4 separate regions of the Homo sapiens genome follow, and regions 1, 2 and 3 are each linked to region 4. The links come from fine-mapping of genetic effects on gene expression. A gene starts in region 4. Each other region holds a variant in brackets. All regions are shown on one strand. Distances are between the middles of the regions.

Region 1 (4,164 bases), 630 kb after region 4:
CAGTTGTGCTACGTTGTTTTATTCCAGGAGCTGTAATTTTAGGATGTTAGTATTGTGGGTGGATGTGAAAGAAATGAAATTATTTTTCCCTCCACCCAAAATCGTACCCCAGAGAGCACCAGGGTTGTAAAAAGTCCCTGTACTCTTAAGTCAGATGCAAGACAGTGGGGCCCCAGGTTGGAATGCAGGGAGCCCCAGGTGGCTGGGGTCTGGGCAGCTCATACCCACTGTTTTCCTCTCTTTGTCTGCCGCTGGACCTAAAGTTATATGCATCCCCAAAAACAGCAGCGTAATTCCCTAAAACCAGGCCTGACAACTAAGAAATCACTTTCCATAAGGTCAGAGACATTTACAATAAGAAGGTAGCCCCAGGGAGACAGAAAAAAGATCAGACTCTACAGAGGAGCAAAAGTGGGTTTTAGGCGCTGTTGACGCTCCAGCCCTGGGCTTAGAAGGAGGACTTGGCACCAATTCCAGCTCACACATGGCTTCTGATGCTCAAAACAAGCTGCAGTCCCTCCCCATGAGCTCTGGACAGGAGGGAGATTTGGAGTTACCCCGCCCAGTGAGAGGGCTTGGACCTGTGCAGTAGCCCCTGTTCCTGCAGCCCATGATAACCCGGTAGGAATGAAGCCGTGCTTGCCCTCCAGGGTAATCTGCCTGAAACAGCCACTCCTGTGTAGGGCAAGAGCTTATCTCAGCACCACGGTTACTACAGGAATAGTTAGTGGAGAGCAGCTGAGAGTTTCTGCATCTCCACAGTCAGGTGAAAATGGTAGCCTTTAACAGAAAAATATTTTATCCGGTGTTTCTCAGGGCCCTGCAAGGGGTTTCGCGGCCAGAAGCCCCACTCCATGGAGCACAGATCCATCTGTGCAGGCCAAGTGGGGTGGGCGGGGAGATTTCAAAAATAAGATTCCAGCCAAGAAGAAACTCACTGTTCATTTTCCAGGTGAACTGAATTGGACCAGGTTCTTAGGCATGTAAGAGAGGGGAAATTTAAGTACAGAAAGAGTGAAATGAACTTTGCCACAATGGGTCAGATGCAGAAAGGGGATGCTCCATAGGATAAAAATGAGGGGCTGGGTAATCTAAGGGGCTGAGCGCAGGGAATAGACCCTCCGCCATGCCTGTGCTCTGCTGGGAATTCAGTGAACACCCAGGCACCTTGGACAAATCCTTTAACCACGCACGCATATATCTGCACATGTGTGTTCGTGTTCTCTGTGCGTCTGTCGCCCTATTGGTGAGTACTGCTAAACTCTCTTTACCAAAGCCCAGGGATATAGGAAAGAATCTAGATCTCACACGTGACTATTCAGTGGGCCTGTCGCCTATTAGACAGCAGTGATCAATGTCATGTTTCTTGCGAAGCTTCTGTGTCCTTGTCGGGTGCTGTGGCGGGGAAGGAAGGAAGTCGGAGGCAGGGTCTTCTTCCTTAAAGATCTTCTAGTGTAACTGAGAAGACAGGCAGAAGAAGGAACTTTTATTTTGAGACACGGTCTCATTCTGTCGCCCATGCTGGAATGCAGTGGTGCAATCATAGCTCACTGCAGCCTCCACCTTCCAGGCTCAAGCAATTCTCCCACCTCAGCCTCAGCCTCCCGAGTAGCTGGGACTATAGGTACACACCACCGTACCCAGCTTTTTTTTTTTTTTGGAGAGACTGGGTCTCACAGTGTTGCCCAGGCTGGTCTCAAATTCCCAAGCTCAAGCAATCCTCCCATCTTGGCCTCTCAAAGTGCTGGGATTACAGGCGTGAGCCACTGCCTGGAACCTGGCTGAGAAGAAGGAACTCATGGAGTGTCACAAGAAACAAAGAAACCTGCTCTAGACGACAAGTAGCTAGTATACAGGAGAGGCAGGATTTGAACCTAGGAGGTCTGGCTCCAGAGCTCATGCCCTTTATCTCTATACTGTACAGAAGGGCCAGACGTCGTGGGCCATGAAGGGTGAAGGACAGGGTCACCAGAGGCCTGGCTGGTCAGGAAGGGAGAGGCTTACCAGGAAGGAGAGGTCTGAGTTGGACCTGGAGGGGTAACTAGGATTAAAGCCACGTGGTAGGGCCTCAGGGGGATATAGATGTCAGGTGGGGGCTTCTCAATTAGGATAAACAAATGAGGGAGGGTCTGGCTGGAGGGAAGTGGGAGTTGGAGGAGCCCAGAGGAAGAAGCAGAGCTGTCTCGTCCCAGGCAAACTCGCTCTGAGTACACTGAGTTAGCCTGCAGACAGGCAGGAATGGGGGAGAGGCCCAGGGAGGCCAGAGGTGGAGACCCGGGATGACTTCAGCATTAAAGACACACAAGGAAAGGAAATGGCTTCAGGTCAGT[T/C]ATTTAGCATGGCAGAGCCAGAGCTATGAGCTGTAAGATCTTTCTTGCACTCAGTTCTCTTTTTCACATCCTAGTGGTGCCTTTTTTCTCTTGTATTGAGAGTTACTATTTCACGTATTCATGAGCCACGTGTGAGTGCGTTACATGCATAGAACATGGAATGATCAAGGCAGGGTACGTGGGGTATCCATGGCCTTGAGTGTTTTTTTGTTTGTTTGTTTGTTTTGTTTTTTGAGACAGAGTCTCACTTTGTCCCCAGGCTGGAATGCAGTGGCGCCATCTCGGCTCACTGCACCCTCCACCTTCCAGGTTCAAGCAATTCTCCTGCCTCAGCCTCCCAAGTAGCTGGGACTACAGGCGTGCGCCACTACACCCAGCTAATTTTTTTATTTTTAGTAGAGATGGGATTTCATCACGTTGGCCAGGATGGTCTCAATCTCTTGACCTCGTGATCCACCCGCCTCAGTGTTTACTATTTTTATGTTGGTATCATTGCAAGTCCTCTCTTCCAGTTACTTTGAAGTGAACCTCGCGGTGCTTTTTAAGTTGAATGTGTCATCCTATTGCTTGTGGCCTTGCTTATTTGAGGTAGGGAAGAGGAATGTGATTGGCCTCACGTTAGTTTGGTGTTCCGGGCTCAGCCCCTCCCCCAAGCCAGGAAGGCAGTCAGAACTGCAGTAATAGGATGGGCAACGCCAGATACGGTCATTTAATGAAGATGTAATCGATGGGAATGATTCAGGGCAGAGGCTGCTTTCTGGGCCGATGGGCTCAGGTGTGATTGCACCATTCCCTGTGGGGCACTGGACAACACTGTGCACTTTCTCCCCCTGGGCATCCTAACTCAATGCTTAGCTTCATTTCTGAGCTTCTCCAGGCTGGGCCAATATTTCACTTCTACGGTTTGGGTAAAATAGGAAGGGCTTGAAGCGAAAGATGAGGAGAGGAGATAAAGTAATGATAGAGCAGGAGAAGAACTCTGAGTATCTGATTTAGATGCTCCGGGGAACTACCCGGACCTGACCAGCCACTTACCTCTTCTGCCCTCCCGGTACCTGAGAAATGGAGGTACCTAGCCTTGCACCACCTTTCAAGATACTGTTCTTGTCTAATTCAGCTTTTCTGGGGGGAAAAAAAAGTCATTCATTTATTTCCAAGAGCAAGAACTGCTATGGAAGCCAAGCTGGGAGCACAGATCCCTGTTTTCTTTTAAATTTAGAGAGACTGGCGAGGGATCTCCCCCTCGCTCTCTCCCTGGCTCCTTTTTTCAATTATTTTCAACTGTGTGCTCTTTCACGCTCTGGCTTTTTTTTTTTTTTTTTTCCTTCACTTTTGTTGGAACCGAAGGGAGAAAAAACCTGTGTGGACTCAGTAACATTAACCACCGGATCTGAATTTCTCCTTAAAAGTGAGGGTGAACAAGACTCCACTTTAAATCTTTAGCACCCCCGACCCCCGCCCAAAGTAAGATATTGCTGGCAGCTTTGTTTTCTTTAAGGGAAAATTAGCCATGAAAAAAAATGTTATTGTTTGTAAGTCCTGATTACCCCCAGGTTTCTTCCAAATTAGATATGTTAGTCTTGAGAACATACATTTTGTTTCTGATGTCCATGTAAAATGCCCCAAATCCCAGCCCACCTTCCTGTCAACTTGTCTCACATGCATGCGCACACACACACACACACACACACACACATGCAAACACACATTCTTAGATTTCATTTGCAAAATAATCTGCCTATCCTATAAAATATACTTCACTAAGAGCATGACCATATAACTCCCCCTAACTCCATGAATGTGGAGATGAACAGTTCCCGTTTTCACTTTTAAA
Region 2 (4,164 bases), 490 kb after region 4:
ATCTCAAGCACTGCGGGACATGGCTGGTGGCTCAAGGCCCCCTTCCTTTCCTGAACCAGGAGCCTGTATGCCGTGAGCTATGATGTGGGCCTGGCTTGCTGAGCCTGGAGCCGGTGTGTCTTTCACATGACCATGTGGCAATCTGGAAAAGTCCATGTGTCTTAAGCTCTCAGTGTTGTACAAGCTGAAAGGAGAAAGAAAACAGGAGGACGCCAATGGTACCCAAAGCCAACTTAACTGGGGTCTCAGTGAAAACCTTAGGACTTTACAACTACATCTACAGATGCCCTCTGCATTACTCTGGTGCACGTTTTATGGCAGGAATCCTGTTGGCAGAGATGACCACAGAGGAGGATCACTCAGAAAGCATTTTCTCAAAAACTATAATTTCTTTAGTCTCCTGTTCAGGTGGATAATTAAATAAATGGTGATTTTCCCAAAATGCCTTTAGAAATGGTGGTCCTGGCTGGATGTGGTGGCTCACACCTGTAATTCTAGAACTTTGAGAGGCCAAGGTGGGAGGATTGCTGAAGGCCAAGAGTTCAAGAGCAGCCTGGGCAGGACAGCAAGACCCCATCTCTAAAAAACAAACAAACAAAAATTTTAATTAGCTAGGTGTGGTGGCATGCACCTGTAGTACCAGCTACTAAGAAGACTGAGGTGGGAGGATCACTTGAGCCCAAGAGTTCAAGGCTGTAGTAAGCCAAGATCCACCACTGTACTCCAGCCTGAGTGACAGAGCAAGACCCTATCTCTAAAAAAAAAAAAAAAAAAAAAAGGAAATTATTCTTCCAGCCAAGCCCTAAAGTCATATTAATCATTGCATTTATCTTAATCATCATTGGATGGTTTTTATTCAATGTCCTGGTTAAGGTCAGTATTTTAGACTGTATAATAAAGAAAACGGGCAATGTCCCCATCTCCCAGGAACTTACAGTCTAAGGTCCATATTGTAAGGTATGTAGCAAACAGAACATAGGCAGGCGCGGTGGCTCACGCCTGTAATCTCAGCACTTTGGGAGGCTGAGGCAGGCGTATCACTTGAGGTTAGAAGTTTGAGGCTAGCCTGGCCAACATGGTGAAACCCCGTCTCTACTAAAAATACAACAATTAGCTGGGCGTGGTGGCACATGCCTGTAATCCCAGCTACTTGGGAGGCTGAGGCACCAGAATTGCTTGAACCCATGAGGCAGAGGTTGCAGTGGGGCAAGATCGTGCCACTACACTCCAGCCTGGGCAACAGAGCGAGACTCAATCTCAAAAAAAAAAGGGAGGGAGGGGGAAGAAAACAGAACAGAGAGGAAGCAATGCAACAAACTGAGAAGCAGAGCAGCAAGAGACAAGTTTACAAAAGGAGATCATAAATGGCACATTGTGGCTGGGCGTGGTAGTTCATGCCTGTAATCCCAACACATTGGGAGGGCAAGGCAGGAGGATCATTTAGGCCCATGAGTTTGTGAACAGCCTGGGCAACACAGGGAGATCCCCATTTCTAAAAAAAAAAAAAAAAAAAAAAATTAGCTCTGCATGGTGGTGCACGTCTGTAGTCCCAGCTACTGGGAAGCCTGAGGCAGGATGGCTTGAGCCCAGGAGGTAGAGGCTTCAGTGAGCTATGATCACGCCACTGCACTCAGGCCTGGGCAACAGAGCAAGATCCTACCTCTAAATAACTAAATAAAGAGATAGCACGTTGTAATTCAGCAATCTTTCCTGTGATGTGTTAAATAGGGAGATGATTAGAGAAGAAAAGGTGTGCCCTGTTTTTCATGGAAAGGAAGGTTCTAGAAGAGCTAAGCCTGCTTTCTTCCTCCATCCCCTTAAGAGGTCTTCATTGGGCAGGTCACCATAGTAGCCACCAGATTCCTGATTGCTGTCATGTCATCAGAACAGGAAGCAGGAAGAAGAGAGTGAGGAAATGAAGGGAAGATAGAAAATATCGAACCCAACAGTTCTGTGCAACCAGAGATGTGTGTGTTAAGGGTACAACTTGCAGAAGAGGAGTGGGATTGGGATTGGATGGAGGAAAGCTGGGCGTAGTGCATGATGGTACAATATTCACATCTTCTTGTTGAATGCAAGGTTGCACTGTCAGTCAGTGTACCTGTGAACATACTGGTGCCCACAAAGAGATGAGATGGACCTTGAGTAATGACATTGCCTGAGTGGATAAGAAATTAGAAGCTGCCTCATCTGGCCAACTGTTAGAAAAAGTACAGTGGCTGCAAATGTGACCCCGTGATCTTTTGTAACTGCTGTAGTCTCCCCACTGCCAGCTTTCTGATCTGTGGAAAGCTCTAAACAGTTTCATTAAACAAGGTCAGGAATCTTGGCTGGAATTCTTGGCTTCTCAGGGCTTGTCATGGGAGAGGCCAGCACTCGAGGCCCAATCAGGACTCCAGAATCCAAGTGTCAGGGCCCCTGAACCTTGCTGGGCTCGGCCCAGTAGGCTTTGGGAGAAGTTTCTTTGCAGCTCACTGACCATATTAAGGGAGGGAGAAAGGCAGCAGTTAGGGCAGTTTAAACTGGTATTTGTAATTTTGGGTGGTTGTCTCAAAGAGCAACCCCCT[T/C]GAGGAAAGCATTTCTGGAGCCAGTATTTCCAAAAATGTGCTGGAGAGGGGTCTGCGTCAAGTAAGTTTGGGAAATGCCTCACCATCCTCACCATGTGTTCCCATGTGAGATGTGGGCACATTTGCTTAAGAACCACTGAGGAACCGGCCGGGTGCGGTGGCTCATGCCTGTAATCCCAGCACTTTGAGAGGCTGAGGCAGGCAGATCATGAGGTCAGGAGCTCGAGACCGTCCTGGCTAACACGGTGAAACCCCGTCTCTACTAAAAATACAAAAAATTAGCCGGGCGTGGTGGCGGGTGCCTGTAGTCCCAGCTACTGGGGAGGCTGAGGCAGGAGAATGGCGTGAACCCAGGAGGCAGAGCTTGCAGTGAGCCCAGATCGTGCCACTGCACTCCAGCCTTGGCGACAGAGCGAGACTCCGTCTCAAAAAAAAAAAAAAAAAAAAGAACCACTGAGGAACCCTGGAGTGAAGACCCCTGGTTAGTCAGTCTTTCCAGGCCCTCCTTGCCATGAAAAACCCTCCCTCCTGGGCCACAAACTCATTTTGGGGTATGTGACTTCTTCAGTTGTGGAGGAACAAGGACCCGATGTAATTAACACTCTGGGAAGTGCTATAACTGGCTCTGTCAAGACCATGTGAGACCTATTCCAGCTCTACTAGGGGTAACGGGTGGCTCCAAACAAGCCACTTCGCATTTCTGTTTCTCTGTTTCCTCCCCGCGCCCCCCAAAGAATTGTCAATTTCTGTACCACCTCTTTTTCCTTCCCAGGAAAACTACCAAGATCAAGGAAATGACATAAAAATGCTTTGGGCTGTGGTGTGACCAAAATGTCAGATGAGTGCTATGAGAGTTTCTTCCAAGACAGACTGATGTCCATCCCTTAAAGAATAACCAAAATCCTGGCCCGGTGCTTTGGCTCACACCTGTAATCCCAGCACTTTGGGAGGCCAAAGCAGGTGGATCACCTGAGGTCAGGAGTTCAAGACCAGCCTGGCCAACATGGCAAAACCCCGTCTCTACTACAAATACAGAAATTAGCCAGGTGTGGTAGCTCACACGTGTAGTCCCAGCTACTCAGGAGGCTGAAGCAGGAGAATCCCTTGAACCCGGGAGGCAGAGGCTGCAGTGAGCTGAGATCGTGCCACTGCACTCCAGCCTGGGCAACAGAGTAAGACTCCATCTCAAAAACAAAATCTTGAATTCTCTGCTGAAGTGTTTAGTGCCAGGCTCATAGTAGACACTCTCTAAATACTTAGTGAATTAATGAATAAAAATAATAATACAATGGTCCCCAACCTTTTTGGCACCAGGGACCTGTTTGAAGGAAGACAATTTTTCCAGACTGGTGAAAGGGGGAGGGGGATGGTTTGGGGATGATTCAAGCACATTACATTTCTTGTGCACTTTATTTCTATTATTATATTGTAGTATCTAATGAAATAATTCTACAACTTACCATAATGTCCTATCAGTGGGAGCCCTGAACTTATTTTCTTGCAACTAGACTGTCCCATCTGGGGGTGATGGGAGACAGTGACACATCATCAGGCATTAGACACCTGATGGAGCACACAACCCAGATAGCTCGCATGC
Region 3 (4,164 bases), 320 kb after region 4:
GGATGGGTCTCCAAGGTTCTAGACTCCACTAGGTGACCTGGCCCCTGGCTCTAATAACTCGGCTCCTCCCTTGACCCCTTAGGCCAGCCTCCCTGCCTCCCCCTTTGTGGTTCTTAGCCCCTCCGTCCCCTGTGCCCAACTCCTGGTGACATCAAAGCAGCAGCTCCAGAAACTCTAAAATTGCTCAATCTAACAATTTCCTATATTGACATTCTCTTCTTTTCAAAGACAGAGTTTTCCATTTTCCTGTTGGGTTCAATGGATGTATCTTCCTTTGGGATTTCCAAACTGCTGTAATCTGATAAAGTCCTGTAGGACAGGCAAGCTGGGCCCTGAAATCACACCAGTTGACTTTGGTTTTCATCCTAGCTCTGACATTTCTAGCTGTGCTGCCTTGGCCAACTTACTAAGCCCCTCTGAGCACCAGTTTCTTCACCACTGAAACAGGGATAATGAAACGCATTTCCTCCATGGAAGTAGCCTTTGATAACCTCACAGCACATGGCCTGCCAATGGGTAGGTGCTCAGTGAACATTCATTCCCCTTGCTTCTCCTAAAGTGGTCATAACTGTGAGAGTATGAATGCATATCCCTTCCGGGGAAACATATTTGTATTCTAACAATGGAAAGAAATACTTGGCCAGGCATGGTGGCTCATGCCTGTAATCCTAGCACTTTGGGGGGCCGAAGCGAGGAGATTGCTTGAGCCCAGGAGTTCAAGACCACCCTGAGCAATATAGTGAGACCCTGTCTCTATTTAAAAAAAAAAAAAAAAAAAAAAAAGACCTAAACTCGACAATTAATTTTGAATATGTAAGTCTCCGACACCCATGGCAAGACAATCAGAAAGATATTTTTGGACCAGCAACCTTTGAGAGCCTTGAAATCACTCCAAGGAGGGGGTCACCTACTCCGCGGGGACTGGGGAGGGCTCCATTATCTGGGAGGAGGCTTTTGTGCTAATATGAAAAGTGATCCTTCTCCCCGCCTCCCAAGGGAAGGATGTGGAATGTGTGAGACTCAGATGTGTGGGAGTCTGGCCCAGGGTTATTTTTGTTACCATTAACATTCTCTTCTATATGTATTTTAACCTTAATCAAATGCATGTGTTTTTGTTTTATTTGCACTTAGTTCATCAAAATGTCCCTTATGATCTGAACTATGCCATAAGCCTAAGCTCCACAGTGAAACACTCATTAATACCCCTGGGAAACAGGAAGTTGCATTTAGTCAAATGTAAATAAATTCAGCTCCCCGGGGCTTTGCCCTGGCCTGGGTCAGAGAAGAGGACAGTGGCTTCTCAGTCCATCTCATCATTGTCCCCCCCACCGACCCCAAAACTGAGCTGGAAGAATGACATGCCGTGACTCTCAACAGATAAAGTGTTCTGAAAGTGTGCCTATCCTTTGTTCAAAACCGTTACAACGTCAAGTGCAGTTTTACAAAGAAATGAGTTTCTCTTGCTTTGGCTCAATCATCGGGTATCGTTCCAGATTTTTTCCCACCCCCCGCCAATGCTCTGAAACCAGGCAGTGCAGGCAAGAAGCAAGAAAGAGAGAAAAAAGAGATGTAAACCTAAACCACCTCACCAAAGACGCCGTGTGAGCCGTGGTTAAGAGGTTTCCGTCTCCCCGTCTCTCTCACCCTCTCACTGACTCTCCTACTGCACACATGGAACCAATTACGAACAAAGCCCAATTGTTGTATATTTGGAATTTCCCACATCAACCTGATGCTTTCTTTAACTGACTCGTGATGTGTGTCTGCG[C/T]TGGAGGGCTGAACCCAGGTTTCCAGCCCGTGCGCTGCTGCCGCCGCCGTGGCACCCTTCGCCTCTTTCTTCTGATTCATTTTCTCATAGTACAAAACTCTGCTTCTTTCCTTCGCACCCCACCCCCATTTCCTATTAGGTGTGTTTGAATAAACAGAACCTTCATTTCCGTCATTTTCAATGAAGTAAGCACACTGGTCTGCAGACAGTGTCTCAAAGCTGGTGCCCAGAGCGTATGAGTGGTATCAAGGCTAATACCAAAAACCACGGGATGATTACAAAGGAAATGGCCATCCCTTTCATAAAACTCAGAACAGACAGAAGCAGTGTATGTAGAAATGCTTTAAAAAGAAAAAGAAAAAAAAAACCCAAACATACCCCATATCCTGGAAGCACCTTACTTGATTTTCTTTGTAGTAATTTTTTCTGCTATGGAAATAAGCCGATTTCAGGAGGAGTAGAGATGGGGAAGGTAGGGGAAAATATTACAGAAAAGTTAACGTTTGAGACCATTTATGCCATCCATCAAAGAAGGCTGTGTGATCTGAAATTACACAATATGATCAGAAAATAATTGACAGACGTGATGGATGAATCTGCTTCGACACAGCCGTGTAAAACGAAACATAATTTCTTCTTGTTTACTGGCACACGTAAAAATAAATGTTCTATAACACAAACATTTAAATGAGAAGGTGCCAAACACAAGCCTGTTCGATTTGATTTGATTCATCTGAACCATGTGATTGCAACAGTTTCTTCTTCTTTCCCTCATACTTTCTCTCTGTGGACTGTATTCACATATACAGTGAGTAATACCCGTGCGTTTATTTTTATGCGTTAGAAAGCAGGAAGGGTAAACAGATACGCATGTCTGATGCTCAGTTTTATAGATAGAATTTATGATTTCAAAGAGGTCCCTGATGTGTTCTGTCTGTGGTCTTCAGATATTGTTCCTCCGTTCAGAAGGGAGTGAAATCAGAGTGTAGGATTCTGCATTAATCTCCACTCCAGATGGTGATATTCCAAATAGTCTTTTTAAGGTGAGCATGTGACCTACTGTACGGCCGAGGGGCTTGGGAGTCACGTGATGGAATGAATAATACGTCTGATAGAGCTTTGATTAGACAACTGACCTGATTACCATCTGCAGCCACGAGAAGCAAAGTTGACATTTCTGGATCACTCTCCCCAGACGCGTCACTTGCCCACAAGCGGGACACGGCAGTCTCGCTGAGCCAGCTGTGCAGAGGGACAGATGGAAGAAAGCTAGAGATGCTGCTTCGTGGGCGCTGAAGTTGCAGAACTTGGGCTGGTTTTCTTTCTTCCCATCCCCCCTCCTCCTGACAAACCACATCTTGACTCAGATGGTCGAAAGAAAAACTCTTTCAGTTATTTGATATTTGGGAACCCTCCAGGAGACCATAACTTATTTTTGAGGGAGGCTCCTTCTCTCCCTTTGCTGGGAACACACACACACACACACACACACACACACACACACACACACACACACAGCTGTACACCATGGTGGTTCAGGCTGCAGTGGCTCCGAATAGATCCCAAAGACTTTTACTGAAAATTCCTTATGGATCTCTGAGAAGGCGCAGCGTTGAAAGGGTAAGCTACGTGGCGGGTTGTTTGCTTCTCAGTTGCTCCAAAGACAGGAAGATGTTTGTTTTCATTGTATACCGCGTTACTTCTGTTACTCACGTTTCCTGAACAGTTGGAGTTCCTGGGACTGTAGAATACTATCTCATCTGTAATTTTAGTTTTTTAACAGATAATGATGAGAAACCTGAAACAGTAATTTTTGTAACTTGTGGATCTCAGATGGGGGAGGGGTGCTCTTAGAGATGAAATATGAGGGAAAAGATTGGGATGGAAACTTCCCCCTGGAATGGGTTTGAAAGATTTGAGTGCTTGCTGAGAAATGCATGGGGGCTGTGAAAATGATTTCTTCTGTGTTTACTGAAACATACTCATTAGAGCAGCAGGGCTGTGAATTTCTTCTACTGGGTGACAGTGTCTAAAAGGGAGGTGATGGTGATGTTAAGGAGCTTCAAAGCTTTGGTAGTTTAAATTATGCAGGCAGTTGATTACATGCTTTTTTCCCCCCAAATACATTGCTATCATTTGGGGTTTATTTGTTTTTAATGCTATGGATTTTGGCTTAAAATTACTCTGTTAATTTCCTGAAAGCATGTTTACTTTATGGAAGCCCCTAGTAGAGAAAATCCTATAAAGTAATAATAAGGATTTGTCCTTCTCTGGAGTAACAGATGCATTTTTGGGGCTGACTCTAGTTAATGCAAAGCTGGTTGTCATTAGGGTGACAGGCTCAACATGCAGGGAGAATCCCTACACCCACAAAGTATATGGTGGTTCTGTTGGTC
Region 4 (4,164 bases):
AGGTCCCTTAAATCACTATTATAGACCTGTTCCTTAAATCATTGTTATTATTTTTCAAATGTGACTATACATATTATTTTGAATAGTATTGCAATCCACCAGCACAGTCAGAATGTCCTGACAGTTCTGTGCAAGGCCACATGCATGCGACTCAAGTCATGCTTTGAATCTCCAGGCACCTGCTGGCAAGGAGGGTTGCTCTGGTGTTCCGGGGATCAGTAACATGAGACTCCATCCACACACTGTGGAATCAAGGTTCAAGCTCATTGGGCCACTATAGGAAAAACAAAATGGGAGAAAATTTTTCACTCACTTATTTTATTTTGTTTTATTCTTTTCTTTTCTTTTTTTTTTTATTTTGAGACAGAGCCTTGCTCTGTTGCCCAGGCTGGAGTGCAGTGGTGCGATCTCACCACAGTGCAACCTCTACCTCCCAGGTTCAAACGATTCTCCTGTCTCAGTATCCCAAGTATCTAGGAACACGGGTGCCCACCGCACCCGGCTAATTTTTGTGTTTTTCATAGAACAGGGTTTTGCCATGTTGACCAGGCTGGTCTTGAACTCTTGACCAGGCTGGTCTTGAACTCTTGACCATAGGTGATCTGCCCACGTCAGCCTCCCAAAGTACTGGGGCTACAGGCGTGAGCCATTGCACCCAGCCTTCACTCATTTATTGAATATATTTTAGTACTTACTCTGTGCTAAGCACTGTGATGAGCAAATACTTTTTATTTTTAAATTTTTTTAGAGACAGAGTCTTGCTCTGTCCCCCAGGCTGGATTGCAGGAGTGCAGTCATAGCTCCCTTCAGCCTTAAACTCCTGGACTGAACTGATCCTCCCACCTCAGCCTCCCAAGTAGCTGAGACTCTAGGCACACACTACCATGCTTGGCTAATTCTTTTATTTCTATTTTTCTTTTTTTTTTTTTTTTTTGTAGAGATGAAGTCTTGCTATGTTGCCTAGGCTCACCCTGAATTTTGGGTCTCAAGCTATCTTCCTGCCTCAACCCCCAGAAGTGCTGGGAATGCAGGTGTGAGCTCCCATACCTGGCCCAAATCAATAGTTTTAAAAGTATAAGTAATAAAGGAACAGTAGCTATGCTCGTGCACAGGAACATGAAAGGTCATTAATTTCTTCCCCCTAGTTTCTTATTTCGAAAACTGTTCTCTATGTTTCTACATTTCACACTGTCTAGTTAATTTTCAGGATTTTTTGGAGCCATTACAGGAGGTGAGTAAAGGAAGAAATCAGAAAAGGACATACTAGAAGTATCAGGAATAACCATTTTTAGTTGAATACATGGACTCCAGAAGAAGATACAAGCTTGACAGTGCTCATGAAAAGATATCTAATTTTCTTAAGTCTTTGACTCTGGAAAGCCCTTTGAGCTACCCATTATATAACAAGATTCGGCAGGTTTTTTCTTTCTCCCTTCATTGACATCTTCCGGGGAAAATGCTGCATGATATGATTTTCAAGGCTAACTTGCCTTTTCCTGTTAAGCAGTGTCCCTTGTGACAAATTCACCTCCTATGCCTCCCTGAACTAGGGAGGCTCCTTCAAAATTCCTAACAGGCAGCCCTGTGGAGAGATGGGAGGGAAGGGATGGGAGGGAGGAAGGGCGGGAGGAAGGGAGGGAGAGAGAGGTAGAGTGTGTCTGTATGCGGCGTACATGTGGTACAGCCAGGGAGATCAGAACGCTCACAGAACAGGCAGTGCAATTCCATGTTCCTCTTAAGTATGTTAGCCCTACCGGGAGCTGAGCTGGCCAGTCTACTTGGAGAGGAAAAGTAGATCTGGGGAAGGTGGAAGGGTCAGTTCCTAAGTGACTTCCTCCTCGGGGATGGTAAGGGCATTTGCTGATCTCCAGTGACTGCCTGGTGCCTCATGGTCAGACTCGGCTGTCTCACTCCCAGATATCTGATTTTGCAAAAAGGGACACACCTATCTGCAGCAAAGAAGACACTGACCAGATTGCGAGCGGTATGTTGTGACATTCAGCATGTTTATGCAGCAGAATTGCTGAGAGATGCAGAGAGAGGGGGTGGCTCGGGCTGCTTGATTTATCTGCAATAGGGAATGTTTTATTTTAATTGTCAGTTAAAGGAAGAATTGCTGCCAGGGCGAAGGTAGCAGTTAAACATTCCGTGTTCTAAGCTTTCACGTTTGTGTTTGATGCGGTCTCCCTGTCTGTGCCGCTTTGCGAAGCTAGGGAGGGCTCACTTTTAAATAACCTGCAGCTTCCTATTTTCCTTCTTCTTTTTTTTTTTTTCCTCCCTAAGCACAGTTCCCACCCTGTCTTCCCTGACCTCCTCCCCACCCTGTGTGAAAGGTGGCCTATCTTCCCCTTGAGCCTTTTGCTCCCTAAGTCTGGATTTTGGCTGCTTTTTCTGCAGGTGCTTTTGGATGCTCTGTAGCCACCCGGGGCCCAGGAGGACTGACTCGGCAGCAGGATTCGTGCATGGGAATCGGAGACCATGGCAGTGCAGCTGGTGCCCGACTCAGCTCTCGGCCTGCTGATGGTGAGTGTTCAGACAGGAGGTGGGGCCCGGGCAGCGTCCACTCCAGCCTCCCCTGCACCGTGGGCTGCTGCTGCCGCTGCAGTGGCTGCAGACATGTTCAACATTGCTCCGCTTTATCCCGCAGGCTCTTTGGAAATGCTTTCTTGGGTCAGAGTATCAGCATGACAAAGCACTTGCAGGGAAAAGAAGCTGTAGATTTGCCATTTCAGAAACTTGTTGCTGAATGCTATTTTGAGAGCTGTGCTTGCAAACAGGTGCTAAGAGCCCCTCGAAATAGATTGCTAGGATGCCTCCTCCAGCTCCCAGCATCCTTTCCCCCTTGTCTTTTGCATCTAAATTGAGCTGATTGTGTTTGTTTTTGGATATCTTCTCAGGGCAACTGTGGAATCTGTTGCCCATGGGGTGACAGAATGGGGTCTTCTTTCTAGGCGCCCATATATCTGCTCATACTTTCCTGTAGAGGTGGTGGAGGAGGTTCACTGTGGCTTCAGTGATGCTTGGGCTACTGAGTTGGGAGCAGCTTGTTTCCTATCTACCATTGATGGCCAACCTTGGCAGGACTTGTCCAGGCATTTATCTGTGTGTGAGCAGCTGACTCACCTTATGCCCCTCTGGAATTTTCACCATATTAAGAAAGCCCTAGCTCTTACCATATTAAAGCACACAAGGACATGGGCACTGTCTTGTTCCAACCCAATTGGCTTTTGGCTTGACACTAGGTTCAGCAGTGGCTTTTGCCATGGTTTTGCATCTCTCTCCTTTCCCAGGGTTCCCACACACCACGGTAATACTGGCTGTTGTCGGAAGTAGCCTGCATCAGGCTTGGCATGGAAATGTTTCCAGCATTTACACAGGAGATTTTATGAACCAAGCATAAGTGCTTCTGTGTATATTGATTTGTGTCTTCGGAATGAGGAGGGGAAATGCAACTTTGCAAGGCCTGATGAGTTTATGGAGGTGACTTGGAAGAGCCGTCAGTGGGAAGCCTGCCCCCTGGGTGGCAAGCCAGGTCATGTTAAAAGGAACAGATATCTTGGTTCTTCGTTGCTCAAAATTCCACTGGGTCCACAGATTTAGTTGAATTGCCTGAAATCTATCTCATGGGCCTCTGCTGACTTCTCATTTCACTGGGGGAGTAGGACTAGAAGAAATGAAATTGTCAGTTTCCAGAGAAATTACCCATTACCTGACTTCTTTCCCTTACTAATTCTATCGTCTGATGATACTTTATCCTCCATCGTCTACCTGTGGTCAAATAAACTGGATAGGAATTTTCATTCCATCACTGAGTATTCGTGATGATGGCTGGCACTAAAATGCATTATCTATGGGGTCTAGGAGACTTCTGGGAACCTGGGAGCCTGGGTTATATGCTCTGAAATACAGGCACACATATGCACACACACACACACACACACACACACACACACATGCATATGTATATTATATTATCTAGTACACTAACAGAAATAAATCCTGCATCGTGTTAATATAGAGGAGAAAAGTTTTCTTGAAAAATATCTTTAGGGAGAGTTAGACCCGCTTGTCTCAGCCTCCTACTTGGACCTTTCTTCTATACTTAGAAGAAAGATGTGTATCTGCTTTATTCCAAGCCCCTAAGCATGAATCCTTGGTATCCAA

Which allele goes with the higher level. Positions count from the first base shown, and alleles are read on the strand shown. Sizes are in standard deviations (SD) of each study's normalised expression. Not every link is listed here.
In carriers of allele C in region 2, the expression in tibial artery of the gene that starts at base 1,657 in region 4 tends to be lower than with T alone (small effect, 0.20 SD a copy in GTEx).

What was found.
Region 1: its variant is fine-mapped to the expression of FRMD4A in whole blood (TOPMed, PIP above 0.99).
Region 2: its variant is fine-mapped to the expression of FRMD4A in tibial artery (GTEx, PIP 0.98).
Region 3: its variant is fine-mapped to the expression of FRMD4A in whole blood (TOPMed, PIP 0.99). The same link has a PIP of 0.9 or more in blood mononuclear cells.

What each region holds. Positions count from the first base shown.
Region 1 is chr10:13,702,403-13,706,566 of GRCh38, reverse strand. The region is part of intron 13 of FRMD4A (FERM domain containing 4A); the gene reads left to right. Among named protein-coding and RNA genes, the nearest start is that of PRPF18, 120 kb to the right of the region's middle. The variant T/C (reference allele first, on the strand shown) is at 2,331.
Region 2 is chr10:13,835,606-13,839,769 of GRCh38, reverse strand. All of the region lies in intron 3 of FRMD4A (FERM domain containing 4A), which reads left to right. Among named protein-coding and RNA genes, the nearest start is that of FRMD4A-AS2, 150 kb to the left of the region's middle. The variant T/C (reference allele first, on the strand shown) is at 2,568.
Region 3 is chr10:14,007,284-14,011,447 of GRCh38, reverse strand. All of the region lies in intron 2 of FRMD4A (FERM domain containing 4A), which reads left to right. FRMD4A-AS2 (FRMD4A antisense RNA 2) reads right to left here. Exons shown (of 3, transcript NR_199003.1): 3 at 3,922-4,164. Among named protein-coding and RNA genes, the nearest start is that of FRMD4A-AS2, 18 kb to the right of the region's middle. The variant C/T (reference allele first, on the strand shown) is at 1,769.
Region 4 is chr10:14,328,417-14,332,580 of GRCh38, reverse strand. FRMD4A (FERM domain containing 4A) reads left to right here and starts at 1,657. Exons shown (of 25, transcript NM_018027.5): 1 at 1,657-1,984; 2 at 2,398-2,523. The coding sequence starts at 2,479.